Linked DNA regions of Homo sapiens. The protein of the gene in region 3 purifies or fractionates together with the protein of the main gene of each other region. This does not show direct contact. Each region holds a gene or a part of one and is shown on either strand. Other genes may lie near its edges.

Region 1 (8,287 bases), on a different chromosome or scaffold from region 3:
TAAAGGATTTTGTAGTGATTTTGATCTTTTCACCAGGACAGAACAGCTGCTTTTGTTAATCAGCAATTCTACCTTCAGTAAATTAAAGCCTTTATCTTACCCGGTGTACATGAAGTTCCTTAAAGATCTAATGCTTCCATGTACATTTTCTATGGTTTTACAGGATTATTATTGCCAATTTAGGTCAGATACATCACAGGAGGAATAAATTATTATTTTGATAGAGGTTATTAGCAGCATGTATACAAATTAGTTTAGATAAATCATGCATTGTCCTACAAACTAGTTATTTCTGGCTTAATGTAATATAGCTCCTGAATTTTTTCCAGCAGCATAATAAAATGGCTAATCAGGTGAATGGTAATGCGGTACAGTTAAAAGAAGAGGAAGAACCAATGGATACTTCCAGTGTAACTCACACAGAACACTACAAGACACTGATAGAGGCAGGCCTCCCACAGAAGGTGGCAGAAAGACTTGATGAAATATTTCAGACAGGTATAATATGCATTTCTTGTTTCTGACTGGTTATGAAAGTGAGGGCAAACCACTTTGAATTTTATAGTTTTTTAAGGTTAAATAATACTTATTGTTTCTGATCTGTAGAGCTGAATGTTTGTTACTTTCCCTTCATTGAAGGCATATTGGGTTTGACTTTGATACTCTTATTTCATTATTTTGAAGCCTTCTTAGTGTTGAATATGCAGTCTTAGTTGTTTCAGAACAGCACATCGATTTGTCTTAGATTTACCACCCATAAAAATGTATGTTTCTGCATACCAAATTTTACATTTTTTTCTTAATCAAAATCAGTCATCATTTTGCTTTTGCTTTTCTACTTTTACCTTCTTAAAGTGATTGTTAAATCAGCTTAGGTCTGATTAGGTGGCATAACAAGAGGATAGCTGTATCGTCTGAAACCATAATAAATGTCAGACTCCTTGAGAGTTTGTGGCTTGTCTAGTTTCTAATAGAAATCCACATCTCTCCGTAATTTGGAAGTGTTTGGTTGTAACAGCTGCTTCTTTTTTTTTTTTTTAATCCAGAAGTGCCATGGTTAAGTGCTTAAGCAAATTTGAACATCTTAATATAGTTGGTTGTAAGTGGTTTGAAGTTTTAAAGAGGGAGAGAAATATTTACCCTTAGGGAGCGTTGTTCATAAATGAATGTGTCCTCCTCCTTTGGGGACATAGATGGAAACTTTCTTCCTCTGTGTTGTGTGTGCCTATTCAGATTCTGAGAGAGAATTGAATTGTCTCACTCACAAATGTGTCTTAAGTACAGTAGTAGCAAATAGCTGTTTTTTTTTTTTTGTCCTTAAAAAATTTTTAAATCTGGGAAGCTTAGCATAATTTTAGACATTAAAATGACTTATAAAAATGACTCCTGGGTCATGGTCGCATTTGAAAATCAGTCCTCAGGAACTTTCTGTGACATTCTGCCATAGAGAATTGGCAGTGATCTGCTTAGAGATGCTCTCTTGTAGAGTGTTTTGTTATTGATAAGAGGCTGATGGTTTGGGCGTAGACTTGGTTTGACAAAATGGATTGATGGGTGTCCTGAGTTGTGGCTTCGGGTGGTGGTATGGAATATTCAAGTGAGGCAGCTCCAGTTATTTACACATGCTCATTTCGAGCTTTTGAAACAAATCATGGCAACTTTTTTAAAAAGTAACTTTGGAAGTGGCATTACATTTATTTAAAATTTACTATATGGAATAAAGTTCTTTTTAGCTTTATCAAAATGGAGTCACTTTTCATGTTCATATGAACTTGGGGGTTTTAATCTACGAAATACTTGCATTTTACGTTGGATCAATTCTGAAATATATTCCATATGTAAATATGACACAAACTTAACAGACTTAAGAAATTATATTTTAAACTTAGTAGATGTTCTGTGTGCAGTTGAATATACTTACATATATGAAATGCAGTGTATATATTTTCTGTCAAGTTTACTTGTAAGACCATAAAGTCTTTATTGCCATTTGAAAATGATTGTCGTTCTTGACAGTCAATGTGAATGCCACAGCATCTTTTAAATCTCAGCTTGTCACTTCAGAAGAACAAAGAATGCCTTAAAGTATGACTTTCAGAATTGATTAATCAAGCTGCACTTGCATTTGTAGAAGTTTAAAATTATGCCTTTCCACATTCTGACTGCAGCAAAGTGGATGCTCAGATAAACAAATGCATTTCAGTTTATCTTTGGTGTTCAGGAGGGAAAGCCTTTTGACACTTTTTGGAGAGTGGAAAGAATTACTTAGTAAAATTTGTTTTCAGATTTTCCTCCACCTCTTAGGTGGTTAGCATCAACTGTAACCGTCTGTAATTTGAAGGTTTATCCTTGGAAAACGCAATGTATTCTTATCACTCTAATATAAACCAAAATTTGTTGTATTAATGCATAATCTGTAATACAGTATGTACATCAGATTTAACTTTCAAGACTTATACCTTTGGGGGAGTGGGAAATGGATGTTAGGATTTGGCGGGGGAGGTTTGTGGATATGGAGATTGAAATTCATGTTTTTGGTTGTTGACATTTTATCTTTATTTTCATATTTGTCCTGGACCTTTCTATGTAGTATTTGGATAGCTGCGTATATGCATATAGTTAAATGAAAATACAGTTTGTTAGTGATCATATTGAATGTAACAATTCTTGATTAAACGTCAGTAGAGCTTAGATTACCCCTTTTGTTGCAATAACGTTACCCCTTTCAATTTAATTTTTAGGATTGGTAGCTTATGTCGATCTTGATGAAAGAGCAATTGATGCTCTCAGGGAATTTAATGAAGAAGGAGCTCTGTCTGTACTACAGCAGTTCAAGGAAAGTGACTTATCACATGTTCAGGTAAGGTCGTTACTCAGAAATGTCTTTGAACAATTAGTAATCTGAAATTATTTTACTATTACTTTTTTTCCTATGGAGAAGTGGTATTTTTTGTTTGTGACTACCTCTTCTTTTAAAAAATTAGTTTAAAGGAAAAAAACTGCTTGTGGCAGAGTTTCAGAAGCCCAAGTATAAAGCAAAAGTTTTCTCCCACCCCCTTGTGCAGTAAGTTATTTTAAAAACTTAAAATTAAAGCCAAGTTTTGATGGTTGTTACTATAGGTTTTTACATGTTACTCAGCTTTTTAACATTTGGGGGTTATTTGATCCTGTTTTATTATCTTGGAGGAAAATGTAGGTGGGAGGAATAGTTTCCGACATCTGGCAAAGACAGTCTAGATACAGTCACATATCAACAAGTGGAAGACTGTGTTTTCCCAGGGTAGAAGGTAAGCTCCCTGAGGTCTATACTGCCTTACTGCTGTCTGCTCCAATCTCTGGCACATAGTAACCACTCGGCAAATACTTGTTGAATGAATCAGTAAATCTTTTGTTAAAATCCTGGTTTTCTGAAATTTAAATTTAATTATGTATCTGACCCTTCAGATATTTTTGGTGATTCTTTTTATTGAATTACTTGTCTGTTCTAGAACAAAAGTGCATTTTTATGTGGAGTTATGAAGACCTACAGGCAGAGAGAGAAACAGGGGAGCAAGGTGCAAGAGTCCACAAAGGGACCTGATGAAGCGAAGATCAAGGTAAAACTTGACTTGGGTAGTTGTAATGAAATTGCATTTAATGATGAGGTCAAATGCCTCTTTCCATGTTTCCTAGAAAGTTTCACTTTTTTTTTTTTTGAGACGGAGTCTTGCTCTGTCGCCCAGGCTGGAGTAGCGGCGCAGTCTTGGATCACTGCAAGCTCCACCTCCCAAGTTCATGCCATTCTCCTGCCTCAGCCTCCCAAGTAGCTGGGATTACAGCCATGCACCACCACACCCAGCTAATTATTTGTATTTTTAGGAAAGATAGGGTTTCACTGTGTTGGCCAGATTGGTCTCGATCTCCTGACCTTGTGATCCGCCCACCTCGGCCTTCAAAGTGCTGGGATTACAGACGTGAGCCACCACGCCCAGCTGAAAGTTTCACTTTTCAAAACTAGTGTTTAGAAATGAAATAATTTAGAGGAATTACATAAGAAGGATAATTTTGGGGATCGACACTCAATTGCATGTTTAATGAAAAGCCCTAATTCATACTCTTCCTCATTCCCTCTTTTGTGGCCATGAATGACGTATATTTATTGATGCTTCGCTGGTAGTTTCTTGGATTGATCCAGTAATGTCTCTTGGTTCAGTTATTTTCCAGCCACTTTGTTTCTTTTCTCTTGATAAAAAGGTTATAACTTGATAAAAAGTTGTTATAACTGCTTTCCTCCTTTTGAATATTCAGTTACCTCAGTTTCTTTATTTATAAAATGGGGATAGTAATAGTGACTACCTTACAGAGTTATTGTAAGGAGTAAATGAATTAACATATATAAAGCACTTAGAATAATGCCTGGAATGTAGCAAGAACTATATAACCATGAACCATTATTATTATTACCATTTTATTACTTAGATAAACAGCTTTGAAAAGGTAAATATACAGCTTTTAATGAAAGACCAGTGAACCTAATTCCTTAGTTAAATGGATACTCGTGTCTTGCTGTAGTGACATACTTTTCTTTTTTTTTTTTTTTTTTGAGACAGAGTCTCACTCTGTGGCCCAGGCTGGAGTGCTGGAGTGCAGTAGCGCCATCTCAGCTCATCTCAGCTCACTTCAACCTCTGTCTCCTGGGTTCAAGCGATTCTCCTGCCTCAGCCTCCTGAGTAGCTGGGACTACAGGCGTGCGCCACCACATCCAGCTAATTTTTTTTTTTTTTTTTTTTTTTTTTTTTGAGACGGAGTCTCCCTCTGTCGCCCAGGCTGGAGTGCAGTGGCGCGATCTCAGCTCATTGCAAGGTCTGCCTCCTGGGTTCACGCCATTCTCCTGCCTCAGCCTCCTGAGCAGCTGGGACCACAGGTGCCTGCTACCATGCCCGGCTAATTTTTTTTTTCTTGTATTTTTAGTAGAGACAGGGTTTCACTATGTTAGCCAGGATGGTCTCAATCTCCTGACCTCATGATCCGCCCGCCTCGGCCTCCCAAAGTGCTGGGATTACAGGCGTGAGCCACCGTGCCTGGCTGCTAATTTTTTTTGTTTTTTGGTAGAGTCGGGGTTTCACTGTGTTAGCCAGGCTGGTCTCAAACTCCTGACCTTGGGGGATCTGCCTACCTCACCCTCCCCAAAGTGCTGGGATTACAGGTGTGAGCCACCATATCCGGCCTGTGATAGACTTTTTTTTTTTTTTTTGAGACGGAGTCTCGCTCTGTCGCCCAGGCTGGAGTGCAGTGGCGGGATCTCGGCTCACTGCAAGCTCCGCCTCCCGGGTTCACGCCATTCTCCTCCCTCAGCCTCCCGAGTAGCTGGGACTACAGGCGCCCGCCACTACGCCCGGCTAATTTTTTGTATTTTTAGTAGAGACGGGGTTTCACCATTTTAGCCGGGATGGTCTCGATCTCCTGACCTCGTGATCCGCCCGCCTCAGCCTCCCAAAGTGCTGGGATTACAGGCGTGAGCCACCGCGCCCGGCTGTGATAGACTTTTTAATTAGAAATAGTTATTGTATGTTGAAGTTATTTCTATTATTATTACATTGTAATATGTAATGAAATAATTATACAACTCACCATAATGTAGAATCAGTGGGATCCCTGAGCTTGTTTTCCTGCAACTAGATGGTGCCATCTGGGCATACTGGTAGATGGTGACAGATCTTCAAGCATTAGATTCTCATAAGGAGCATGCAACCTAGATCCCTTGTATGCACACTTCACAATAGGATTCACCCTCCTGTGAGAACCTAATGCGGCTGCTGATCTGACAGGAGGTGGAGCTCACAGCTCAGGCAGTAATGCCAATGATAGGGAGGATGAGGAGCGGCTGTAAATACAGATGAAGCTTTGTTCTCACTTGCCCGCTATTTACCTCCTGCTATGCAGCCCGGTTCCTAACAGGCCATGGACCAGTACGGGTCTGTGGCCCAGGGGTGTGGGGACCCCTGTTTTATATTACATTTATGGCTCTGTTTCAGTCAAAGGTAGAAGAATGGAAGGCCGAAGGCATGCATCCCTGTGAAATCCTAGTGTTCACTGAACTTGATGATATCTAAAGTCTCTTATTGTTCTGACATTGTGTAATTTTAAAAACCTGGCTGGGCTCTGTGGCTCACGCCTGTAATCCCAGCACTTTGGGAGGCTGAGGCGGGTGGATCACGAGGTCAGGAGATCGAGACCATCCTGGCTAACAACGGTGAGGCCACCTGTCTACTAAAAATACAAAAAATTAGCCGGGTGTGGTGGCAGGCGCCTGTAGTCCCAGCTACTTGGGAGGCTGAGGCAGGAGAATGGCGTGAACCCGGGAGGCGGAGCTTGCAGTGAGCCAAGATCGCGCCACTGCACTCCAGCCTGAGCGACAGAGCGAGACTCCGTCTCAAAAAAAAAAAACCAAAAAAACTGAAGTGTAAATTTCTCTTTTCTAGGTAGATTGTGTTTCTTTGTTTACCATTGTATCTTTTCTTCTCTAAGCTCTTTATATAGATGTTGCCTCAATTATAACATAAATTCCTGAGAGCAAGGAGATTATCTTCTTTTCTATGATTGCTCTTAATACCTAATAGAATGTAAGGAAGGTTGGTAATCAGGAAACACAAGATTTTACTTATTTTTCGGAACCTGACTATACTTATTTGGTAATTGCCAAATATTTTTAGTCTGTACTGTATGATTCTTGTCTGATTACCTGATTCTTGTGGAGCTTATGATATGGCAGGAGTACAAACCAGAAGGATCAAACAAAATCAAGCTTAAATGATGGAACTTTAAGTACACTAGAGGCTGGGTATGGTGGCTCATTCCTGTAATCCCAGCACTTTGGGAGGCCAAGTCGGGTGGATCACGAGATCAGGAGATTGAGACCATCCTGGCTAACACGGTGAAACCCTGTCTTTACTAAAAATACAAAAAATTAGCCGGGCGTTGTGGCGGGTGCCTGTAGTCCCAGCTGCTCGGGAGGCTGAGGCAGGAAAAGGGCGTGAACCTGGGAGGCGGAGCTTGCAGTGAGCCGAGATCGCGCTACTGCACTCCAGCCTGGGTGACACAGCGAGACTCCGTCTCAAAAAAAAAAAAAAAAAAAAGTACACTAGAAAGACAGTGGGGGCTGGGCACAGTGGCTCACACCTGTACTCCTAGCACTTTGGGAGGCCAAGACAGGCGGATCTCATGAGGCCAGGAGTTCCTGACCAGCCTGGCCAACATGGTGAAACCCCATCTCTACTAAAAATACAAAAATTAGCTGGGCGTGGTGGCACATGCCTGTAATCCCAGCTACTTGGGAGGCTGAGACAAGAGAATCTCTTAGACCCGGGAGGCAGAGGTTGCAGTGAGCCGAGACGATGCCACTGCACTCCAGCCTGGGCAACAGAGCAAGACTCCATCTCAAAAAAAAAGAAGAAAAGACAGTAGGGAGAAATGGATGTGAGTAATAGTAAATGAGAGAAGCTGCATGAAGGAGGTAAGACTTGTGCTAATTTTTTTAAGGATAGAGAACATTTTATTTGAAAAGACTCACCAGTAGAAACATGTATGGGGAACCAGTGCGAATTTTGACTTTTTTTTTTACCTAACCATAAAAATATATCTCCTAGGAAGTTGGAGTCCTTTTTGGAAAAGATTAATACACTGATGCTTGTGTGTGAGATTTAGTACTCAAGTATAAAGAGATGTATAATTATCTCTAGGCCTTGCTTGAGAGAACTGGTTATACTCTGGATGTAACCACAGGACAGAGGAAGTATGGTGGTCCTCCACCAGACAGTGTGTACTCTGGCGTGCAACCTGGAATTGGAACGGAGGTAAGTGTTCTTTAGCAGTTTACCAAGATCTTTCCAGTTTGGAAAGTGTTTTATCTACTATGCAGATACTGTACAGACGGGGGAAAATTCTTGATCCCTTTCAAAGTGTAGCTGTTGTTAGTTTTTAGATATCCATTTGTATTTTGCTGCCATCATGAGGATGGATAATCTTGTGACTGGTAGATACCCGAACACTTTATATAGGAATATAATATAGAGTTTTTGGAACAGGTTGCTAAAACCATGCTACTAGCAGCACACCATTTTAGATACTTGGAGTAAAGTTATTTGGAAGACGCAATTGCTTTATTCTGTCTTTTTTTTTCCCCTCCCCTGAGATGGAGTTTCGCTCTTGTTGTCCAGGCTGGAGTGCAGTGACACGGTCTCAGCAAACTGCAACCTCGGCCTCCTGGGTTCAAGTGATTCTCCTGCCTCAGCCTCCTGAGTAGCTGGGA
Region 2 (8,287 bases), on a different chromosome or scaffold from region 3:
CGTGGCCAGAACCTTGGAAAGCCTGGAGGCAAATGAGAGCCCGGTGGGGGTAGATGCCTGCAGGGGCTGCAGAAATGTGACAGGCCCTTTCCTTGGAGGTGACTTCTCTAATTCCCTCTCCCCCACTGAGCTCTGGTTCTCTGCTCTTCGGGAGAACCACATTAGTTGACTCTTACTAGGTCCTAGAAGTTTTACTCCATTTTCTAATTACATGCTCAGGACTACTCCAGAAGGGCTTGCTATTAGCCCCATGTTTCAGATGAGAAAATGGAGGTTGGGAGAAGTCATGTGTCCAGGGACACAATTGGGACTTGGGACCCAGTCCCAACTGGGTCCCAAGTTGGACCGGGACACCCCTCCCCTGCCAGGGCCCTTGCCCTGTCTTAGTTGCCCTGAGCTACGGTTCTTGTGGAGGGCAACAGGGTGGGCAGAGGGAGAACTGAGCTCAGCCAAGACCGCCCTGGCTTATTTTACAGCAAATCCCAGACCAATAAGGTCTTTATTAATAAATAAATCCGCAGTATTTCTAAGAACTTTTAAAACCTAACCATGATACTGCTGTCATGCCTAAAAATACATTCCAAAATATCAAGTATCCAGGGTTTAAGTGTTTCTGTATTAAATTTTTTTTTTTTTCCGAGACGGAATCTTGCTCTTGTCACCCAGGCTGGAGTGCAGTGGCACAATCTCAGCTCACTGCAAACTCCATCTCCCGGGTTAATGCCATTCTCCTGCCTCAGCCTCCCGAGTTGCTGGGACTACAGGCGGCCGCCACCATGCCCGGCTAATTTTTTGTATTTTTAGTAGAGGCGGGGTTTCATCATGTTAGCAGGGATGGTCTCGATCTCCTGACCTCGTGATCCGCCGGCCTCGGCCTCCCAAAGTGCTGGGATTACAGGCGTGAGCCACCGCGCCCGGCATGTATTAAATATTTTAAACAGCTGGTTGGTTTGAGTCAGGATCCAAAGTCACACCTTATATTTTGTAGATAACTTTTTAAATTCAGAGCAGCACTGTCCAATAGAAATATAATGTATGCTATAAATGTAATCTTATATTCTTTAGTGGTAAAAGGAAACATGATTCATTGTATTAATAATTTAACCTAATATATATCCACTACTATTTTGCATGTAATTTTAAAACACTTTTTCATTTCTCCATGATCTTGACTAAAATAATTAAAAACAAAATCCTGTGAACTTGTCAAAATCCAGTGTGAGTTTTACACTTACACATTTCAAGCGTGGTGAATGGATGCTGTGTAAGTGATCATCTAGAGGTTCCCCTTTCTTAAAAGGCTCCATCCCCCGTTATATTTGTCGGGCTGTCTTGCAGCATTCCTTCCCCACACTTCGCATTTTTCTGATTGTTTTTCCGTGGTGGTCTTTGAGTGTCTGTTCTTTATATTTCCTGTAAAGTGATAGTTACCTCTAGAGGTAGTTTTTGGTTTTGGTTTTATTTTTGTTTTTGAGACGGAGTTTTGGTTTTGTTGCCCAGGCTGGAGTGCAATGGTGTGATCTTGTCTCACTGCCTCCTGGGTTCAAGCAATTCTCTTGCCTCAGCCTCCTGAGTAACTGGGATTACAGGGGTATTTTTAGTAGAGACGGAGTATCAACTTGTTGGTCAGGCTGGTCTCAACCTCCTGACCTCAGGTGATCCACCCGCCTCAGCCTCCCAAAGTGCTGGGATTACTGGTGTGAGCCACCGCACCCAGTCTGGAGGTAGTTTTGATTCAGATGAGAGTTTTTGGAAAGAAAACTTACTTGAGGTGCTGTGCTCCAACCGGAGGCACATATTGGTTGGTATCTTCTCTTTTGTCATGTTACAGCAGCTATTAATGATCATTATGTAGATCCATTATTTTCTTAAATGGTTTTCAAATTAGTGATATTTTAATAATCGATTCCTTTTCATTTATTAGCAGGAATACTTTTTCATGTGATCGCTCTAAGATGTACTTTTGTTTTTGTTTTCCTTTTTTTTTTTTTTTATAGACGGATTCTCACTCTGTCACCCAGGCTGGAGTGCAGTGGCAGGATCCAGGCTCACTGCAGCCTCCGCCTCCTGGGTTCAGGCGATTCTCAGGCTCGTGAGCAGCTGGGATTACAGGTGTGCAGCACCACCACGCCCATCTAATAGTAGAGATGGTGGAGTGGCAGGGGGTGGGGGGTTTCACCATGTTGGCCAGGCTGGTCTCAAACTCCTGACCTCAAGTGATCCACCTGCCTTGGCCTCCCAAAGTGCTGGGATTACAGGCGTGAGTCACCCACCACGCCCAGCCCTCCACATTTTTTTTTTTCGAGAAAGGGTTTCACTTTGATGCCCACACTGGAGTGCCCTGGTGTGGACAGAGCTCACTGCAGCCTCAACCTCCTGGGCTCAGGCAATCCTGCCTCATCCCCCCAAGTAGCTGGGATTACAGGTGTGTGCCACATGCCCAGCTATTTTTTTTTGTATTTTTTGTAGAGAAGGGGTTTTGCCATGTCGCCCAGGGTGGTCTCCTGAGCTCAAGTGATCTGCCCACCTCGGCCTCCCAAAGTGCTGGGATTACAGGTGTGAGCCACTATATATGGCCTCAGTTCTTCCTTGACATAAATTCAGCTTAGCATTTCTCATAAAACATTAAAAAAGTACCTCTATACTTTGTCTCCATTGATACATCAGTATGAGAAATTGCAGTGATTGAGTTTGAAATGATCAACTACACTTGCATTCCTGAAATCCAACTTGGTCATAATATCGCTTTATATATTGCTGGATTAGGTTGACTGATACTTGGTTTGGACTTTTGCATCTGAGTTCTTGAGTGAAATTAGCCTGTGATACTTGATTAATTGTAAAACTCTTTTGGAAATGAAAAAATCAATTCCAAGTTCATTGTAGATGTAAGTGTAAAAATTTAGAGAAGAACATCAACGCTTTGTAAGTTCAGATAACTATATGGGCTGGGGCTAGGAAAAAGATCTCTTGAAAATGACACAGGCTGGGCGGGGTGGTTCACACCTTTAATCCCAGCAGGGCCAAGGCAGGCGGATTGCTTGAGGCCAGGAGTCCAAGACCAGCCTGGCCAATGTGGCGAAACCCCATCTCTACTAAAAATACAAAAATTTGCCAGGTGTGGTGGTGTGCATCTGTAATCCCAGGCTGAGGCAGGAGAATTGCTTGAACTCAGGAGGTGGAGGTTGCAGTGAACCGAGAGTGGAATGATGGTTTGAGCTCAGGAGTTCAAGATAAGCCTGGGCAAGATGGCAAGACCCTATCTTTTCAAAAACAGAATTTTTAATTAGCCAGGTATGATAGCGAACACTTGTAAAGACATAGAGGATGCAGTGAGTTGTGATTGCAGTACTGCATACCACCCTGAGCAAGAAAGCAAGACCCCGTTTAAAAAAAAAAAGCCATCATAATTAAGAAAAGGCATGACAGATTAAGACTCCTATTAGATTTATCCTAACGGTATGCCTCCTGTTAGACAAAATGCTTCACCTAATACAAATACAGATACTCTTACTTACTGTTATATCCCGATAAATCCATCATAAGTTATTTGATTAGAATAGTGCCATCTAATAGAATTATGATGTTTATGACAAATACATATCTTTTCTAATTTAAGTTGGTGTTAGATACCATATACGATCCTCTTAAAGTACATAGAATTCAGAAGTTAGTTTTCTTGTGATGTTTTTGTCTGGTTTGGTAACACGTTGTATTAGTATGCTAGGGCTGCCATGCAAAGTAATACAGACTAGTAACAAATTTTCTCACGGTTATGGAGGCTAGAAGTCTTAAGATGAGGGTGTTGATAGGGTTGGTTTCTTTTCAGGCAGGAGAAATAATGTGAATAGTAGGAATTCCAGAAGGAGAAAAAGACACAGATGGAGGCAGCAAGAGAAGCGATAAAGGATTAGAAGTGAATTTTCCTGGCTTAAGATCCCTGTAGTTCCCATTAGGATATTTTGAAAAGACACAGCACAGGCGTGTGTTGGTAAAACTCCTAAAGTATAGAGGAAACTGCTTTGGAAAAAGTATGTCCTCCAAATCTCTTATCTTCTCCCCCATTGTTTCTGTTTTGATGTTTATTCTACTTCGTTTTCCTTTCTTTGAATTCATTACTAACTTTTAAATTTAAAACTCAGTTTTAGTTCCAGAAAGTTTTTTTTTTTAAGTTTTGTAATGGAGTGGTATCTGAAGTTGCTCTTTTTTTCCTGTTAAAATCATTATGGTTTTTGTCTAGCACTTCTTGTTCCCTGAAACCTGAGGTGTGGTATGTTATTTCTGGGTGCCGGAGCCCCTCTTCTGTAAATTGTCATGTTCCTTTCCTCCTTCCATCTCTCTGTTCTGCACAATTCCCCCAAGGCAGAATGCAGTGGTCCCCTGGGCAGCACAGCTCAGGGCCAGCAGTCTCAGCTCAGGGCCTGCTGCTTGGAACCTGACTAAGGTGTCATGTTTCCATGGAGGCTTCAGGAAGAATTCCCATCCCAAGGAATGTACCTTCCTCAGGGGGCTGAGGATACCCCACAGGCCTCCTTTCTCTCCAGCTCCAGGGTTTGACTATGCACCTATTTAGGGGCTGCTTGCTCAAGGGAGAGAGGTACAGGAGGTGGTCTGGGAAAAACAAAATTGATCTTCCTATCAATTGTATTTTTGTTTAGCGGAATCTATACACACCCATTTCTTTGGATATTATTTCCAGTTACTCCAGCTAATCCAAATAATGATATTTGCCCTCAGTTAAGAACAGATTTTATTTTTAGGAACAGAAGTCTAGTAGCAGTTTTGCTTTTTATTAACGTTTTAAGGAACATTTACCTTAGATATCATGATTCTTGGGCATTTGCAAAATGCAGTCAATATCAAACAGCAATGGTTGCTTGTTTTATGATCGGTCAGAATTTGTCCCTTATATTAATTTCAGTACAAACAGTATAGATAAAATTTATCTAACATTACATTATACTACTCTTGATGCTTTTTAGTAACACAGCTTTTGAGAAATGAACGCTGAGGGAAGCAGTGTGTTATCCCCCCAGACTTAGCTACAGCAAGTAAGTGAAAGGACCTGATAGATGGTAATGGAAAACAGCTTTCCTGTTGCATGCAGATCAGGACAGATCCCCTTTGGTGGATATAAATGTAGTAATAATGGAGTAAACATTTAAAATGTTAATATATGCTCCATCTGCAGCTTCTCAGTCTTTTTTTTTTTTGAGACGGAGTCTCGCTCTATCGCCCAGGCTGGAGTGCAGTGGTGCGATCTGGGCTCCCTGCAAGTTCCGCCTCCCGGGTTCACACCATTCTCCTGCCTCAGCCTCCTGAGTAGCTGGGACTACAGGTGCCTGCCACCACGTTTGGCTAATTTTTGTATTTTTAGTAGAGACGAGGTTTCACCGTATTAGCCCTCCTGACCTCGTGATCCACCCGCCTCGGCCTCCCAAAGTGCTGGGATTACAGGCATGAGCCACTGTGCCTGGCCACTTCTCAGTCCTTAATAGCTTTTAGGATAGCTCTGTGTATTGAATTTGGCACGTTGTGTGAATTGGGTTAGAATTCTCACACTTCAGATACATGTGCCCCTGAAAAGTTAAGTACAAATGTGTGCGTTGGTGCATTTTTTTAAATGGAATTAGTGTCTTGTATCATAATTCTTGAGTTCATGACAGCAGGAAGTACTTAAGAGTGACTGAATAGGAATTTTATAAAATTGCTGGGTTGGAAGATACTTTTGAGGCCATTAAACCCAATTTTCAATATTTCCAACAGAAAAGGAAAACATCCATAACAAATATGGTCTATGATCTGCTCACATACTATATACCATGATGGGGAATTTTTGCCCCCAAGATGCATCTTGTGCTTCTCATGTGGTGAACAGACACGAGCAGCAGAAGCTGTGTCCTAAAATTTCTTCAATCTAAAGGATTCACCACGAAATAAGAATATGAATACAAAGCATCCAGCACCAAAATGTATCCCAGTAAAGGGCTTTGGTAAAAAATATAAATAATTTGAACAAGTGTCCAGAGGGGAGATAATGTACAGAAGGAAAAAAGAATAATGGGCTTTTAACTTCTTTTTTTTCCCTCAGTTTTTATCTTTTTCCTATATAGAGATGGGAGTCTCACTATACTGCGCAGGCTGGTCTCGAACTCTCTTGGGCTCAAGTGATCCTCCCACCTCGGCCTCCCAAAGTGCTGGAGTTACAGGCTTGAGCCACTGCTCCTGGCCAGCTTCTACTTTAAACCTCAGCTATTTATCAAGGAAAAAAGAATTTCCCTTCTTTCTACATGAAATTCATCACTCAGTGTTCCCACTCACCCATGCTCCTGTCTGTTTAAATGTCACTTCCTCAGAACCCCAATCTGAGCTAATGCCTATTTTCTGTTTTTCGTTCATTCTAAAATTTGTCATCATATATTTGTACATTTCTTGATTTCCTACTCCACTGTTACTGGACCCACCAAGGCAGGAACTGTGTCTCTTTACCACTACAGTTCCTGTATCTTTTAGGTGCGTAGTATTTCTTGGTGAGTCAGTCAGTCTCCAGACTCAGTCATTTTTCTCTACATTACACATTCTTTCACATTCTTCTCCCACCAGTCTTCCTAGACTTGTTTCATTCCTTCCCATCTTGTCTCCATGTATCTCTTCCCACCATTCATTTTCCAGATAGCATCTAGACTGTTGTGTTAAAAAGCAAAACTCCTTTCACACCACATTCCATTAAATGCCTTCCCACTGGCCTTTGAACACCAAACCAGGCCTTTAAGGCTATGTCATCTCCTACCATTGATCTCAGACCTAGCTGCAGTTGCACAATACAACCCCTGGCTCAAGTCTTCTGCACACATTGTTCCCTCACAGGCAGGAACCCTATGGTGACTGATCAATAATTAAAACTTGCCTTGGGCCAGGCACAGTGGCTTATACCTATAATCCTAGCACTTTGGGAGGCCAAGGTGGATCAGTTGAGCCCAGGAGTTACAGACCAGTCTGGGCATCATAGAGAGACCTTGCCTCTACTAAAAAATTAAAAAAAAAATTAGCCCGGCTTGGTGGCATGCACCTGTGGTCCCAGCTACGTTGGGGAGGCTAAAGGTGGGAGGATCATTTGAGCCCAGGAGGTTGAGGCTAATGTGCCTGTCACACAGATTCAACAGTTACTAATCATGGACAGTTATTCTCCATCTCCCCACCTACTACTTTGTGGACAACTTCAAACAAATCCAAGCCATCACAAATATTTCAAGATGGATTTCTAAAACTTAATTGCTTTATTTTATAACATAACCATAATTCTGTGGGTTCTTTTATCTGGCTGGAACTATTCTGAGGTAGGACTGGCTCATTTGTCCTTGTAGTTTCCCACAGTCTACATCACTATATGCAGTATGTTACTGTTCCCTGTAATTCGTGTTATTTAGTAAGTGCATTCTAAAGACTTGCTTTCTCTCAGTTTTACAAACAGTTGTATTAGCCGGGTGTGGTTGCATGCCAGTGGTCCCAGCTACTCAGGAGGCTGAGGTTGGAGGCTTGCTTGAGCCTGGGAGGTTGAGGCTGCATTGCCATGATCGTGCCACTGCATTCCAGCCTGGGCAGCTGAGCCAGACCCTGTCTCAAAATAATAATAATTCTGTTAAAAACGTAAAACAGGCCGGGCGCGGTGGCTCACACCTGTAATCCCAGCACTTTGAGAGGCTGAAGTGGGTGGATCACAAGGTCAGGAGTTGAGACCAGCCTGACCAACATGGTGAAACCCTGTCTCTACTAAAAATACAAAAATTAGCCAGGGTGTGGTAGCGCACGCCTATAATCCCAGCTACTCAGGAGGTTGAGGCCAGGAGAATCGCTTGAACCTGGGAGGGGAGGTTGCAGTGAGCCGAGATCGTGCCATTGCACTCCAGCCCGGGCAACAGAGCAAGACTGTCTCTCAAAAAAAAAAAAAAACAACAACAACAAACTCCAAACAGGCCGGGCATGGGGCTCGCACCTATAATCCCAGTACTTTGGGAGGCCGAGGCAGGGGGATCACGAGGTCAAGATATCGAGACCAGCCTAGCCAACACGGTGAAACCACATCTCTACTAAAAACAAAAACTAGCTGGGTATAGTGGCATGGGCCTATAGTCCCAGCTACTCGGGAGGCTGAGGCAGGAGAATCGCCTTAACCCAGGAGGCAGAGGTTGCAGTGAGCCAAGATCATGCCACTGCACTCCAGCCTGGGTGACAGAGTGAAAACTGTGTCTCAAAAAAAACCAACCAAACAAACAAAACAGTCAAACAT
Region 3 (6,281 bases):
ATTGGAAGATATCCTACACCAAACCAACAAAGCCATAGATCTAGGAAACAGATCATAAATTGAGAGGCAAAGGGAAACCCAGAACAATGGCAAAGCCCCAACTCAACAGTTACTCAACAATTCAAAAAGGGCAAACAGTTCAGATTAGAACACAGAAAACCATCAAGAAAAACATGAAACTAATTACCAAATTAATGTATATAAAAAATCTTTTTTCAATTCTTGTTACCGTTTGAAAATCAGTGTCTGCTGGACAGAAAATTATCTAGGCCAAGAGGTACTGCTAGAAACGGCTCTGAGAATTGCAATTTAAATGAGTCAGACATACAGAAACAAAACAGTACAAAAATCGGGTTACAAGTTTTTTTCAAGAATGGGTTTGATCTCCAAAATTAATCCTTAAAATTAAATCTAAGTAGTGTCTCTCATTTAGTACTAATTAACTGCCAAAAGTGCAGCTTGTAAACATTTTAACACAACAATCAAAATTAATCTGGTAGCATGTTTTTAGTCACACTAAACCTGGTTTTAATTCAATCTGTTTTTACCCCCTCCCCGCACATTTATAAAGTTTTTGATGTGAAGGCCGAACACGGTGGTTTATGCCTATAATCCCAGCACTTTGGGAGGCCGAAGGAGGAGGAGGATTGCTTGAGGCCAAGAGTTCAAGACCAGCCTGGGGAACATAGCAAGACCCTGTCTCTACAAACAATAAAAATATTAGTTGGGCACAGTGGTATGCGCCTGTAGTCCCAATCACTGAGGAGGCTAATGAGGAGCACTTGAGCCCAGGAGTTGGAGGCTGCAGTGAGCCACTGTACTCTAGCATGAACGACAGAGGGAGACCCTGTCTCTTAAAAATAATTTTTTATTGAGAGATTTACATAAAATAAGCATATGATACCAAAAAGAACCCTAGCTTAACAACCCTAACACAAAAAATTTTCATTTATTTTGACCATGAGTCAGCAAACTTTTCTGTAAAGGGCCAGACTGTAAATTATTTTGCTTTGCAGGTCTCTGTCCTAACTACTAAACTCTACCACTGTAACACAAAAGCAGCCATATACAAAACATAAACAAATGAGCATAGCTGGGTTGCAATCTTATAAAAACAGGACACAGGTCCTCAATTTGGATCTATCATAAAAAAACTTTAATAACACTAACTTTTGCTCATTAAAATGTTTGCTTAGTTGGAGGTCAAATTCTTAGCATCAGATGTAACTCCACAAAAGTAAGAAAGGTATTCCATCACTTCACTACTATAGAACTGTATAATAATACATTTCTCATTTGTTACCTTTCTAATGAACTATTCTGAGCAGTCTGAAGTAACTGACTGCACAGCCTTAGATTACCACTCAGGGTGGAACTCTTAACATTCACTTAAGTAATACCTACAAACGATTTTCCATTCAAGTTGATGGGTATCAATTCCCTGAATGCTAATAACAGAACTCAAGAAGCTTCCAACAAATGACAGGAAAAACAATTCTGACTTAATCCTATAGTTATCACTTAGACTCTTCAGTTTCACTTTCTTAAGAGTGACTCAAAAAGTTCCTTAGGCACACATACTAATAATCACAGTCCTGAAATTTTAAGGCCCTAACCAAAAAAATAAAACCTTTGAGAAATGGAAAATAAAATCATTCAAACAAATAAGCACACACACATAAACACGGTATATATTTCTTTAATCCTCCCTCAACACTTGAATTCATCTATGAAGTCCACCACAGCTCTAAAAATCTCTCTGAACTAGCCGCATTTCTATTATAATTAACAGATTTTAAGTCCTTTTTATTTAATGGAAGCATAAAACATTAACTATCTGTGCAAAGGGGTACTTTTGCACATTTATCCAGATTTGTTCTAAAAAGCACAATACATATTAAGCAAAAACTGGGCATTTGGGAAAATATTCATATAAATCTTAATGGCTACATAAGGAAGTATTATTAAAACAACCAACAAACAAATTGACATTAAGTCATTCCCAATTTGGACAGGGAGGACACATTATGGCAAAAATTAGATTTTGCTAAAAACATTTCAAACTTCACTGCAATTTTAATCATGTCCTCAATTTCGGCAAGCCTGTCTTCCAAACTTATGCTTTTAATAACTTGAATCCATGACAATTTTTCCTATTCTGATGATAAAAGAGCCAATACATTTTTATACAAAAGGATTTATTAAAAAACCAGTAAGACACTACTACATCATGACACTGTCACACTGGGCTTTTAACACAAGACTTGCTCTACAATACTGGGGGAAAGGGCATAAAACACAAATTGATTCTGAAGCATAGCAATTAAGAAATAAAACAATGAAAGCAAATTTCTTTTAATGAGAACTCAGAATTAAACTTCAGAGGGACCCAACGTCATACTTCCATTCAGGGACTTGATACAAAAAATTTAGTTTGAACTGCTATTAGCAGGTGGCAGGAGCCACCTTCAAATGAATCTTCAAATTGGAAAATACTGCTTCACCACCTGGAGACAAAGAAGAAAAAATAGAAGTCACTCTGGGCAGGCTACAACACTTAACAAAAATTTACATAAAACTGAGTTATCCCTATGTTCCACTATATGTAAATACTGTATAACATTAAATGTGTGATATGTTTTATAAATTAAAGCTGAACAGTAGAGTCCATGAGCTGTAAATCCACATGTGCACCACTGGTTTAAGATGTGATATGCTTTTACAAGTATTCTTTAAAATATAAAAAGCTTTAAAGTATTTACCCAAAGAACTCATAAAAAGGTCAATTTGGTAAAAGGACATTTTGACCCAAGAGCATCTAATATTTAAGCTTATTTTATTGGATAAGCATATCTCTTGTCCATCACAAGTTATAGAAAAGTTATATACGACTAAAAGAAAAAGTTATCTACTGTAATTATAGGAAGTTGTCACAACAGGAATTCAGCTCAAGAACTTCTTGCAATTACTGCTACAACGTCTATAAATGGGAAAAGCAAGCATTAAAATAGATTAATAAAATATAAAATTAAGACTGGAAAATCCAGAGACAAGCTGTATCCTTAGAAGAATAAATAGTTAAAATTATTCAGTAAGCTGACGTATTTAACCATTACTGGGCCTGTAAAAAATGCATTAAAATTACATTACAAATAGTTTTTAAAAAGCAAAGAAATAAGTGAAGGCAAAGCTTGAAGTATCCATTTTATTTTATAATGCTGATACAGGATGTTGGAAGAGACCATACCAAACGGCAGCATTCGAGAGCGTGAGCATCTCGTACCCTGTCCGCATTGAGCGGGCCTGTGAGAATCGTGAAGTCAGCGCGACACAGGGCCTGCAATGAAGTTCCCGCTGGCGGGTACAAACAAGGTATAATGTCAGAGTTAGTAGGCAATACTTTTTTGCTGCAATTCCTTAATTTGTACCCATTAGCAGTACTTTACCTGTTAACTTTACTGACTTGTTAATAATAGGACAAAAAGGCAAAAGCTTAAGAGCACCTGTGTTACATATCTTTGAAAGTCACTATGTTATAATATGGTAAGCACTTCTGGGTGCTGTGAAACTCTTAAATTAAGCATTGTTTTATGAACAATATAGATTATAAAAACTACTATTGTAAATGACAAAAAAAAACTATTTTTAGAACATACCTGTTGGGGATAAGTTGCAAATGGAATAATTTAGTATGGTTTGTAGCTATTTTGATGACCACCTCGCCTGGATACCTTCCCATAACCACTCTGCTGGTCTAAAATAAAACAAGTGTTAGAACCAGAACGGTAGTGGTTACATACTAATAATCAGAACAGTACCTAATTTTAAACAATCTCAAAAAATTAAGGGTAGCTTAATTCCCAAGTGTGAAAAATTCACCCTGAGCAATCATTTATCAAATAATTTACCAAATATGTAGTGAATGCATACAATGGCAGGCATTCAGAATGAGCTGATTACTTGACTTATTGTATAAAATGGGAGACAATCCCCTCACCCTTACAGTTTAAAAGTTTTAAGTTTCAAAGGATGGACAGCTGACCCTTTCACAACCACCAGCAAAAAATATCTTAAAATTTAGAACAAATTGTCAACCACAATCAGTGCTTAGTATCTCTGCCCTTCTAAGAAAAGGGCCCCAATCTCACCCAATCCATCTTTGCTGACCTTCTTCTGACTTTAATTAACCTATTATTGTGCAGCAGGCCTAGTCACCTAAGAAAGGATATAACTCCAAGAACTGGTCTAACCAAGGAAGGAAAAGAAAAACCACTTAAAACAATGCAACCAATGCAACCACTCTCCTCCAAAAAAATGTAAGATTGCTTCTAGTAGAACCCTTTACCTGACGACTCAACAGTTGCTACAAATCAGGTGGAGAGCAACTACCTTAGTTGCACAATGAAGTCAGGGCTTTCCATGTCTAAAAGTCAAGTTTTTTGGTTCTATCAAGCTCAACATCTGTTTTAAGAGTTTCTACATTAATAATCCTAAAGCGAGGATACTATTAGTTTTAACTGGCAACATGTGGTATTATTCAGTTTTATAGGATTAAGACACATCATGCCAAGATTATTGGTTGGTCCAAGAAGTGACATTTAGAATACCTTGAGCTTAAAAGATCTGAACTGAGCTTAAAATTTTTAAATCCAAGTAAAACAAATGCCCAGCAAACATATATAGAACCACACATACACCCTACCCTTATAATGTGTGTGTGATATAGGCTGGGAGGAACCAAGCAATAAAATGGCTGCAGTTTCAAGTTTCCAGGAATTTGAAACCTGAAGACATTTGCACTTGGCAAGGCTACACTAACCTTTCTGCCTATCCAAATTTGTACAAAATAAATGTCAAATAGCAGTTAATATAAAAAGTATAGTACTTACTGCTATAATCACCATATCCATAGTAGTTGTTGTAACCAGTGTAGTCATATCCTCCATAACCACCGTAACCTTGGCTGTTATATCCATAGTTGCCATAGCCTTGATTCCAATAGTTACTATATCCCTGGTTCCAGTTTTGACTGGGGCCTGCAGCACATTAATAGGTTCACTAAAGTCAGAAGATCAGCAAAGATCTTTACTTCAGGATAATTAAAAAGCAGAAAAGCTTAAGATAGAGTAAACTTAGGCTCTAGCTTACCACCACCTCTTCCACGAGCTCTTCCTGCAAATCCTCCTCTAGATCCCCACTGTTGCTGTTGCTGATATTGTTCCTTCGACATGGCTACTTTTATTTCACACTAAAAGAGAAAAATTACATTATTAAACTGACTCAAGAAAATAAAAGTTGCTAAATAAGTTTCTAATAACCAGAATAGCCAACATGTTTAAATAGAGTAGGCTAATTTGAAACTTTCCTCAGTCAGTTTATTAATTAAACCAATATTTAGTACTTAAGAGTAATCACTTATGAGTACTTGCTAGTGATGTTACTTCATTTTACTTGTCAAGTTCTAAAAACTATTTTTGTGAAAGCCTAGACAAAAACACTAACAAATGTGTCCATCCTGCTCCCCACAAAAAGTTGGTCAATGGTAAGTAACCAATGAGAAGTTTTTAAAGCATGCAAAGAACTTAAGCCTTTACAGAGAAAGATAAATGGTTAAGCTCTTTACAACAGCTAGTTTTCTCTACAAGTAAATGGATGCTTAACTTACTTTACTAAGACCAACATTGTGGTATTTCTTTTCCATTATCTTCTTCACTGGTTCTTCTTCCTTAAAGGTAATAAAGCAGAACCCACGCCTCTTATTGGTCTTGTTGTCCATGGGGAGCTCTATGGATTCCACCTGGTATTAAAAAACAAATTTTAATATGCTAACATGCATTTTATTGACCTTAAAAGAAACACAAGTTTAGAGGGGGGAAAACACACAAAGAAAACATGTATTTGGCACTGAAGTTCTAGTCTCCTGTTTCTCCCTATTTATTCTAATCCTTTTAAGGAATTCTTCAAATTAGAACACCCATTCCATCTAAGGTCTTCACAACTATTTACAAAAATAAGCTTTACCACGCACTGACATTTACTACCTAACTCAAGGGTCACAAATTCAAATGCCCACAAAGAACAAGAAGAAAACAGTCAAATCTAAGAAAAACAGAATAAAAATGTATTTGAGAGAAAACAGGAAGTAGGGTGGTGAGGACTACTAAAAACTGGAGAGCATATGCCCAAACCAAGATGGAAGCTACTACTCAGTTTGAGAGATGCTGCCGTACAGGAGGGCAGCGTCAGTTCCCATGTTGCGTGCTCTTGCAAGTATTTTTTAA
Region 4 (8,287 bases), on a different chromosome or scaffold from region 3:
TTTAAAAAGCTATAAAAAGCAAACATAATTCTGGGGCTATTTTAAGAAAAGGAAAACAACCCTATGTACTTCCTTGGTCCCTGAGGGTAGTACAATGTTTATTCTATAAGGATGATTTTGAGTCATAAAAATTAATATTCAGCATTCTCTGTTTAAGGGATTGAAACAGTGTATACCATTTAATAAAAGATACCCATAAAGTGGTTAAAACGTTTAAAACCATGATATCACTACATGCCTATTAGAATGGCTAAAAGAGAAAAAAATATGAGCAATACCAAGTGCTAGCAAGAATGCTGAGCAACTGGATCCTTACACATTGCTTGTGGGAATGCAGAATGGCACCACCACTCCAGAAAACAGTGGCACTTTCTTATAAAGTTAAACATACATTTATCATACGATCCAGCAATTCCACTCCTGGGTATTTTCCTAATGAAGACTTTTGTTTGTGCAAAAACTGGTACTCAAATGTCCATAGCAGCTTAATTCATAATAGCCCAAACGTGGAAACAAAGTATCCTTTAATAAGTGAATGGTTAAACTACAGTATAGCCATACTATGGAATACTACTTAGCAATAATAAGGAAGGAATTGCTGGTGTAGGTAACAACTTGCATGAATATTTAATTAAGGTTTTATACTGAGTGAAAGAAGCCAGGTTCAAAAGGGATGATTATAAAACTATAGTGATAGGGACCAATTCAGTGGTGCTGAGAGTAGAGGAGGGGAAGGATGTACACATAAAGGGGACAGCAGGAGAGATCTTTGTGGAGTGATGGAACTGTTCTGTATTCTGATGGTGGTGATGCTACCATACATTAAAATCAGAACTATTCATCCAAAGTAAATGTGTTAATTTTATCATATGATAATTTTTTTAAGATTAAGTAAAAACCACTGGCAAAGGAATTGACATGAACAATTCAGTATATATAATGTTGAGTAAATGAGACATTTATAAAAACTTTAAGCATCTTATTGGTGCTTTCTAGTGTTTTGTAAATTGGCAGAGGGGCATAATTTCCTGTTACCTTTGCTTAGAGAAATCTTTTTTTTTTTTGAGATGGAGTCTCACTCTGTCTCTCAGGCTGGAGTGCAGTGGCGCGATCTCGGCTCACTGCAACCTCCACCTCCTGGGTTCAAGCGATTCTCCTACCTCAGCCTCCCTAGTAGCTGGGATTATAGGCGCCTGCCATCATGCCTGGCTAATCTTTGTATTTTTAGTAGAGGCGGGGTTTCACCATCTTGGCCAGGCTGGTCTTGAGCTCCTGACCTCGTGATCCACCTGCCTCGGCCTCCCAAAGTGCTGGGATTACGGGCGTGAGCCACTGCGCCTGGCCAGGAGAAATCTTTTTTGATTTAGAGATTATTTCTTTTACAGAGTAGTAATTGTATTTTTTTGTTCAGTAGTAGTAATTGTATTTCTTTAACCATTAGAAGTTGGTCTACATGGAAAGACAGCCAGAACAATGAAAATAATAATACTTTGGCCTATGTATTGACTAGTTTTGTGTAGGTCCTAAAATAGCCTAATTTGAACTTGGCTTTAGCTAGTTACTTGGACAGTGTTTCTTCTTGTGTGCCTTGGGTCATTATAACCTTTGAAACTTCAGTGAATGACTTATGTTTATTTTAAAATCTTAGTGGCATGAAGTCACTGGAGCTTTCATAAATGTTTCTGCTATATGACTTGTGGTATCAGTGTAAGGGTTTATAATAAAGTCCTTCAGATCTTCTGAATTTGCTTCCATTGGAATTTTGTTAAATAATGCTCTTACATAAAATGGCGTTCATGCTATAAGTCAGTGGAAGAATGTGAGGTTAGACTATGGTTTAGAATTTTCATGGTTAGCATAATTACATGTTTGTATTTAGAGATGATGGTCTCCCTTCATGTATACTTGATGGGGGAAGAGAATGAACTGGTATCAGACCAGGTGCTTGCTAGATCCTTTCTCACATATTCCATCTCATTTAATCCTCAGAGTGCTTTGTTACCCCATTTTTCATGTGTAAAAACAGGATCTAGTGATTAAGTGACATCTGGGGACAAGTCATTAGTAACCTCAAGACGGAAGTGGAGTGCTAAAGTCAAAGTTCAGCTTCTTTGTGTAAGAATACTTTGTGGGTGTGCCTACCTACAATTCTCACCCCCAGGTCAATTACGATAGCTAACTGCTTCAGCTATGTTTTCTAGTTAGGATAGGAACAGTCATGTTGCTATTCAGAAGAAAAATGTCCATCAGTAGATCCTGGACACTGACAGTACATCTTATTCTTAAGGACCTTTAATTGACTGGAAGATTTTTAAGGTTCAAAACTGACCATATTATACCTCAAACTAGTCACTGTATATATTTCTCTGTTGTACTACTTTTGTCACTAGTTTAATTCACATAGCATAATGTCTTCAAGCTTCTTTCATGTTGTAGATTGTGTCAGAATTTCCTTAACTTTTAAGGCTAAGTAATACTCCACTGTGTATATGTACCACATTTTGTTTATCCATTCATCCACTGGTGGATACTTGGGTTGCTTCCACTTTTTGACTATTGGGAATAATGAATAATGCTTCTATGAGCATAGTATACAAAGAGCTGTTCGAGTTCCTGCTTTCAGTTCTTTTGGGTATATACTCAGAAGTAGGATTGCTGGGTCATATGGTAATTCTGTTTTTCTTTTTAAGGAATGGCCATATATTTTCCACAGTGGCTGTGTAGGCCATATATTTTATGTCATAAGTTATATAATATATATTATTATAATATAGTTCCATTTTTTCACATTAATGTGATTGCACTATACGTTATTCAGCAGTTTGCTTTTTTATTTGTAAGAAATCTTTCCATGTCTATACTTAGAGCTCTAAGTCTTTTCAGTCCCTAAATAGTATTCCATAATTTATCCAACCCCGACAGATGGTATACACATGATATATACACACAGTAGAGCTAAAGGTATGCACATTTTAAAAGCCACGTAGGACCATAGAGTCAACATTACCAGAACTTCAGACTTTGCAAGAAAGCCAGAAACCCAGATTTTTAAAAAAATTATTCCATTTTAAAAATGCCAAGCGAAGGAAAACTTGGTTCTAAGTTAGCTTCAGCTCTTGTGCCACCAATTTGTTATTTGAGCACTGATCTTTATCAACAATTATCATGGTCATCTAAATCTCTTCCTTTTTTTTTTTTTTACTTTAAAATTAAACCTATCAAAAACCACTCTGTCTTTTCCTGTCTGCCTCCTTGAACCTTTTTCAATGATCAAAATGCTTCCATTTCCTGGGGTTACTGCAATATGATGTTTCCTTAAATGCCACAATCCTCTTGGCCACTTCCATAGTATATTCTTCATTATATACTTCTCAATATTACATATTTTGAGGTGAGTGCTAACCCACATGTTTATTTGACATCTCACCATTTCCAAGGCACAGCCTCACTGTCCTCAAACACTTCAGCACCTGGTTTTACATTCTTATATATTATTTATACTGTGTCCCATCAACACAGACACTGACTCTTCACCTCTCTCATCTGGCATCCTGATTCTGCAACTGGAGTGAATTTCTAATTGCACTTTAGATACTCCAGAGCTTGGACCGTATAATTAGTGAGAAAAGTGACCCCACCTTTAACACTTCTGAACGCTGTGTCCCTGTCACTCCTTGCCGCTCCCACCGTCTGTCCCCTGCTTGCCTTCCGCCATTTCTCTTTTCCCATTCTGTTGGCTTCCTTTTTAGCTGTAACTAGCTTGAACTTCATGATCATTCACTTCAGAGTTACACCCTCTACCACCATAGAGTCATGCTTGGTATTCCAGCATCCCATCCTCCCAGTCCCTAGAATAATGACACACCAGGCCAATTCTGGCTCAGTAGTCTCCTACTTAACTGTTATACTCTTCCTTTTTTCCAGTACCCCCAACATTTGAATTCACCATATTTATCCAAAAGGTCGAAGAAATGCTTTGCAAACCCTTCAGTGGGTTGTGAAACCAAATTATTGGATGTTTGCCATTACTTAAAAATAACGGAGTAAAATAGAATGAAAAATAGAATGCAAGGCATATACTATAGGTAAATTCCATGTCATTACACTTTTGTATTACTGTGGGTAGCAGTAAGAATGGCCTCTGCACCTACCCCCGCGCCCCAGTGGAACTAATCTTGCACAGCTTTGGCAGGGTAGACGGCCACATCTTCAGGGAGGTCACTCTCCTGTTGGGACTTGAACAAAACCATTAAGTCCAAATTCCTTATTCAGACTTGTAGACCTTCCTGCGACCTGAACTCATTTGACCTTACTTAATGTTTCACAATCCCTCTACTGTACTTTTTAAAATGTTCCCAACCCAACTGGTCACTATTTCCCCAAGAAATATCCAGTTTCTGCTTATGTCATTCCCTCTTGTTTAACTACTGTACTGTGTCCTACTTTTGCTCATCAAAATTTTACTTACACTTCAAAGCCCATGTCAAATGCCAGCCTTCTTCATGGAATCTCTTGATATTTGAAAAAGTGGACTGGGAATACACACACAGCATGGTGTATGTTTGCAGTGGACATTCTAGTCTGTTGTATTGCACCTACCTGCATAACTGCATATTTACCTCCCCCAGCCACCCGTAGGCTCCTTGAGGCCAGGGACTGTTTTACTCCTCTTGTACCCCATTATGCTTAGCATAGGCACTCAACTCTAATCAGAATATTTGCTGCATTCCATTATATAGCCAGACAAATTAAATTATTTCAAAATCTGGATCAATGGCCATTACTTAAGTTTTGTTTTGTTTTTTTAATCTTAAATTTCTCATACTCTCTTTTCTGACTGGTTCCCAATGGTGATTGATTCTCCTTTCAGCAAATGTTTGAGCACCTGTTAATGCCCAGGCCTGGAGGAGTGAACAGAACAGGAAAGGAAGGAAACCTTCAGGGAGCCTATAGCCTCTGGGTTGAGGAGGTTCATTTAAATCCTTTTTTTCTTGTTTGGAACTTTCTTTAATACTGTAGAACAATATGTTTACTCAGTGAAGACCTGTGAGTGGCTCTCAAGTAGGGTTGACAGTTGAGACATTTGGCAGGGGACATTTGGCAGTGCCTGGAGGCATTTTTGGTTGTCACAGCTGGGGGAGGATGTTAACTGAAGGCATCTATTGGGTGGAGGCCAAGGATGCTGCCAAACATTCTACAGTGCACAGAACAGCCCCCATAGCAAAGAATAATGTGGCCTAAAATACCAGTAGTGCCAAGGTAAGGAAATCTTGGTATGAGCAAATCAAAGAATTATAAGCTTTATGCCTTTGTAAAGTCATATAAATGTTTGCGATAGAGATGTCCAAGTACACCAGGAAGAAAGTAATCAAAACTACAACTTAATTTTCTGAATCAAAATACACGCAGGTATACTTCCTCCTATGTCTAACATGTTTAGATCGACATTGTTCTTCATTTTAGTTTTCTGAAATTTATATGAATAGGAAGAAACTAATTAACACATATTACACATTCCAACCTTAATAAGCACTACACCATAGGAATAAATGTCAAATATCGCGTAACATGAAGAAGAGAGATTTTAGGATTTGAAAACTTAGACTACTTTCCAGTAGATTTATAGGCAGAATTTTCTAAATAAAACAGGCATTTAAATGAATCACAGTTCAGATAAAAATATTCTTAAATTATCTAAATGTCTCCATATAGTTCATCGTTTATTTCCTTTTCGCTTTTTTTTGAGATGAAGTCTCACTCTGTTGCCCAACCTGGAGTGCAGTGACACAATCTCAGCTGACTGCAACCTCCACCTCCCAGGTTCAAGTGATTGTCCTGCCTCAGCCTCCCAAGTAGCTGGGATTACAGGCACGCCATGCCCAGCTAATTTTTGTATTTTTAGTAGAGACAGGGTTTCACTATGTTGGCCAGGCTGGTCTCGGACTCCTGACCTCGTGATCCACCCGCCCTGGCCTCCCAAAGTGCTGGGATTACAGGCATTAGCCACTATGCCTGGCCCTATTTTTGCTTATTTTTATGTTTTCTCTAGAAGTAAATCTGATGAAGACCTTGCCTGTTATCCAGCTCTTAGAGCGATGCTTGGTGTGTAGTACATGCTCAGAAAATATTTGATAAATGGATATGAATCACCAGTTACAGGCAAGGAAGTGTGATGGCAGAAAGATGGTAGGAAGCAGAAGTTTTAAAGTCCCCCTAGAGTTAATTCCAAAATCACTGGTGTCAGCTTGGCCACCTGGTGCAGAGCTTTTATCTTTGAGTAAACCTTTTATGCTTCTTAACTTAGGAGATGTGTTGAGGGCATAAAATGGGTGACTGCTTCAGGAAATGGGCTGCATTTAGCCACCTTTCCTCTTGTTACACCTGGCTTTATCACACATTGTTTCTAGGCATCTTAGGGGACAGTGTAAAAGAGTTGAACTTGACCCACTGCAGTATTTGTAGAGGTGATGGTCAATCTGCATTATGGAGTTTAGGATCTGTGATTTAGAAACGGTACTTTTATGCGCCAGTCATTTGGCATTTCTCAGTTGTCTCTGGAATCAATTAACTTTCTTGAAAGGATGAATTTACCATGTTGGTGTTTTACTGGTTAGTGCAGGAAAGTATACTAGAGGGTTTATTGCTGGAGGGTTGACTTCACAGGTCTGAAGTACATCATTCATCCTCTGAGGTAGAGCACATTTATGAATAGTAGTAACAAGCCAGCCCAGACTGTTGGAGGGGGTCACTAGACTCCATGGATGAGGTGTTTTAATTTCCTGGACCTATGAAGAGTTTGCAAGTGTTACTATCTTGAAATAAATAGTATCAACCTGTGGTTCTTTTTCCTAAATTATGAAAATTGAAATTTTATGTTTTAGATTTTGGAATGGTATTTTAATAAGAATGATATTACTAGGATTTAGCTGAGTCATTAGATTACTAGAGTAGGCTAAATAGATTCTGAATACAAATAATGTGTGTGTTTCTTCCTTTTATCATTGTATTTTTTTATTTTTAAAGTTTGTAAAGTTTAATTTGCATTTCTTTTATGACATCACTCCTTTATTATTATTAATATTTTTAGAGGGAAAAATCAAGCAGTTTTATAATTCGAACATCCCAAATCTGAAATGCTCCAAAATTCAAAACTTTTTGAGCACCAGCATGATGCACAAAGGAAATGCTCACTGGAGCATTTTGGATTTTTGATTTTTGAATTTAGAATGTTCAACTGGTAAGCATAATAACAAATATTCCAAAACTTGAAAAAGCCTGAAATCCAAAACACTTCTTGTCTTAAGTGTTTCAGTAAAGGACACCTAACCTGTATTATTGAATAACCATTGAACCAGACTGTGATCACATCACAAGCAGTGTGTGCTAAAGAGATTGCGAAAGCCAAAAAGAAGTGTCACCCTTTGATACAGCCTGGCAGATACAAACTATTACATACATCCTAATTGTCGTTAATCAAAGGAAAAGGAAAACTCTGCCTTTTTACAAGTAGGAAGTTAATTTTGGAGCCAAAGCACCTAGGCCTTCTGAGAAGACAGGGAGATACCCTTCTTTTTATTATTATTGTTTCTTAAAATTGTGGTAAAATACACCTAACATAAAATTTACCAATTTAACCATTTTTAAATGTACAGTTCAGTGGCATTAAGTATATATATTTTTTTGAGATGGAGTCTCGCTCTGTCACCAAGGCTGTAGCGCAGTAGCGTGATCTCAGCCCACTGCAACCTCTGCCTCCCGGGTGCAAGCAGTTCTGCCTCAGCCTCCTGAGTAGCTGGGATTACAGGCGTGCGCCTGCCACCACACCCAGCTAATTTTTGTATTTTTAGTAGAGACAGGGTTTCACCATCTTGGCCAGGCTGGTCTTGAACTCCTGACCTCAAGTGACCCACCACCCTTGGCCTCCCAAAGTACTGAGATTATAGGTGTGAGCCACCACGCCTGTCCCCGGTGGCATTAAGTATATTCACATTGTTGTATAACCATCACCACCATCCATTCCCAGAATTTTTTCCTCATCCCAAACTGGAACTGTGTACCCACTAAACTGTAATTCCCCATTTCTTCCATGCCCCAGCTCCTGGTAACCACCATTCTCCTCTCTGTCTCTGAAGTTGTCTACCCTATGAGCCTCATATAATGAGATCGTATAGTATATGTAATTTTGTGTCTGGTTTATTGCATTTAACACAATGTCTTCAAGGTTCATACATGTTGTAACGTGTCAGAATTTCCTCCTTAAGGCTCAATAACATTCTGTTGTATTGGA

Evidence for each region.
Region 1: the proteins of HNRNPD (region 3) and HNRNPR purify together in Homo sapiens (affinity purification with mass spectrometry; 4 studies listed by BioGRID and IntAct, with this or other methods). This does not show direct contact.
Region 2: the proteins of HNRNPD (region 3) and HNRNPF fractionate together in Homo sapiens (co-fractionation; 3 studies listed by BioGRID, with this or other methods). This does not show direct contact.
Region 4: the proteins of HNRNPD (region 3) and FAM120A purify together in Homo sapiens (affinity purification with mass spectrometry; 2 studies listed by BioGRID and IntAct, with this or other methods). This does not show direct contact.

Annotation. Positions count from the first base shown.
Region 1 is NC_000001.11:23,333,063-23,341,349, reverse strand, and holds part of HNRNPR (heterogeneous nuclear ribonucleoprotein R), read left to right. Parts: intron 1-329; coding exon of another isoform or gene 330-341; coding exon 342-498; intron 499-2,741; coding exon 2,742-2,860; intron 2,861-3,488; coding exon 3,489-3,596; intron 3,597-7,718; coding exon 7,719-7,832; intron 7,833-8,287. UniProt on the Homo sapiens protein: Component of ribonucleosomes, which are complexes of at least 20 other different heterogeneous nuclear ribonucleoproteins (hnRNP). hnRNP play an important role in processing of precursor mRNA in the nucleus.
Region 2 is NC_000010.11:43,398,008-43,406,294, reverse strand, and holds part of HNRNPF (heterogeneous nuclear ribonucleoprotein F), read left to right. Parts: intron 1-8,287.
Region 3 is NC_000004.12:82,351,648-82,357,928, forward strand, and holds the end of HNRNPD (heterogeneous nuclear ribonucleoprotein D0), read right to left. Parts: intron 5,798-6,281; coding exon 5,666-5,797; intron 5,249-5,665; coding exon 5,149-5,248; intron 5,037-5,148; coding exon 4,890-5,036; intron 3,755-4,889; coding exon 3,687-3,754; 3' UTR 3,657-3,686; intron 2,508-3,656; 3' UTR 851-2,507; downstream 1-850. UniProt on the Homo sapiens protein: Binds with high affinity to RNA molecules that contain AU-rich elements (AREs) found within the 3'-UTR of many proto-oncogenes and cytokine mRNAs.
Region 4 is NC_000009.12:93,454,617-93,462,903, forward strand, and holds part of FAM120A (constitutive coactivator of PPAR-gamma-like protein 1), read left to right. Parts: intron 1-8,287. UniProt on the Homo sapiens protein: Component of the oxidative stress-induced survival signaling. May regulate the activation of SRC family protein kinases. May act as a scaffolding protein enabling SRC family protein kinases to phosphorylate and activate PI3-kinase.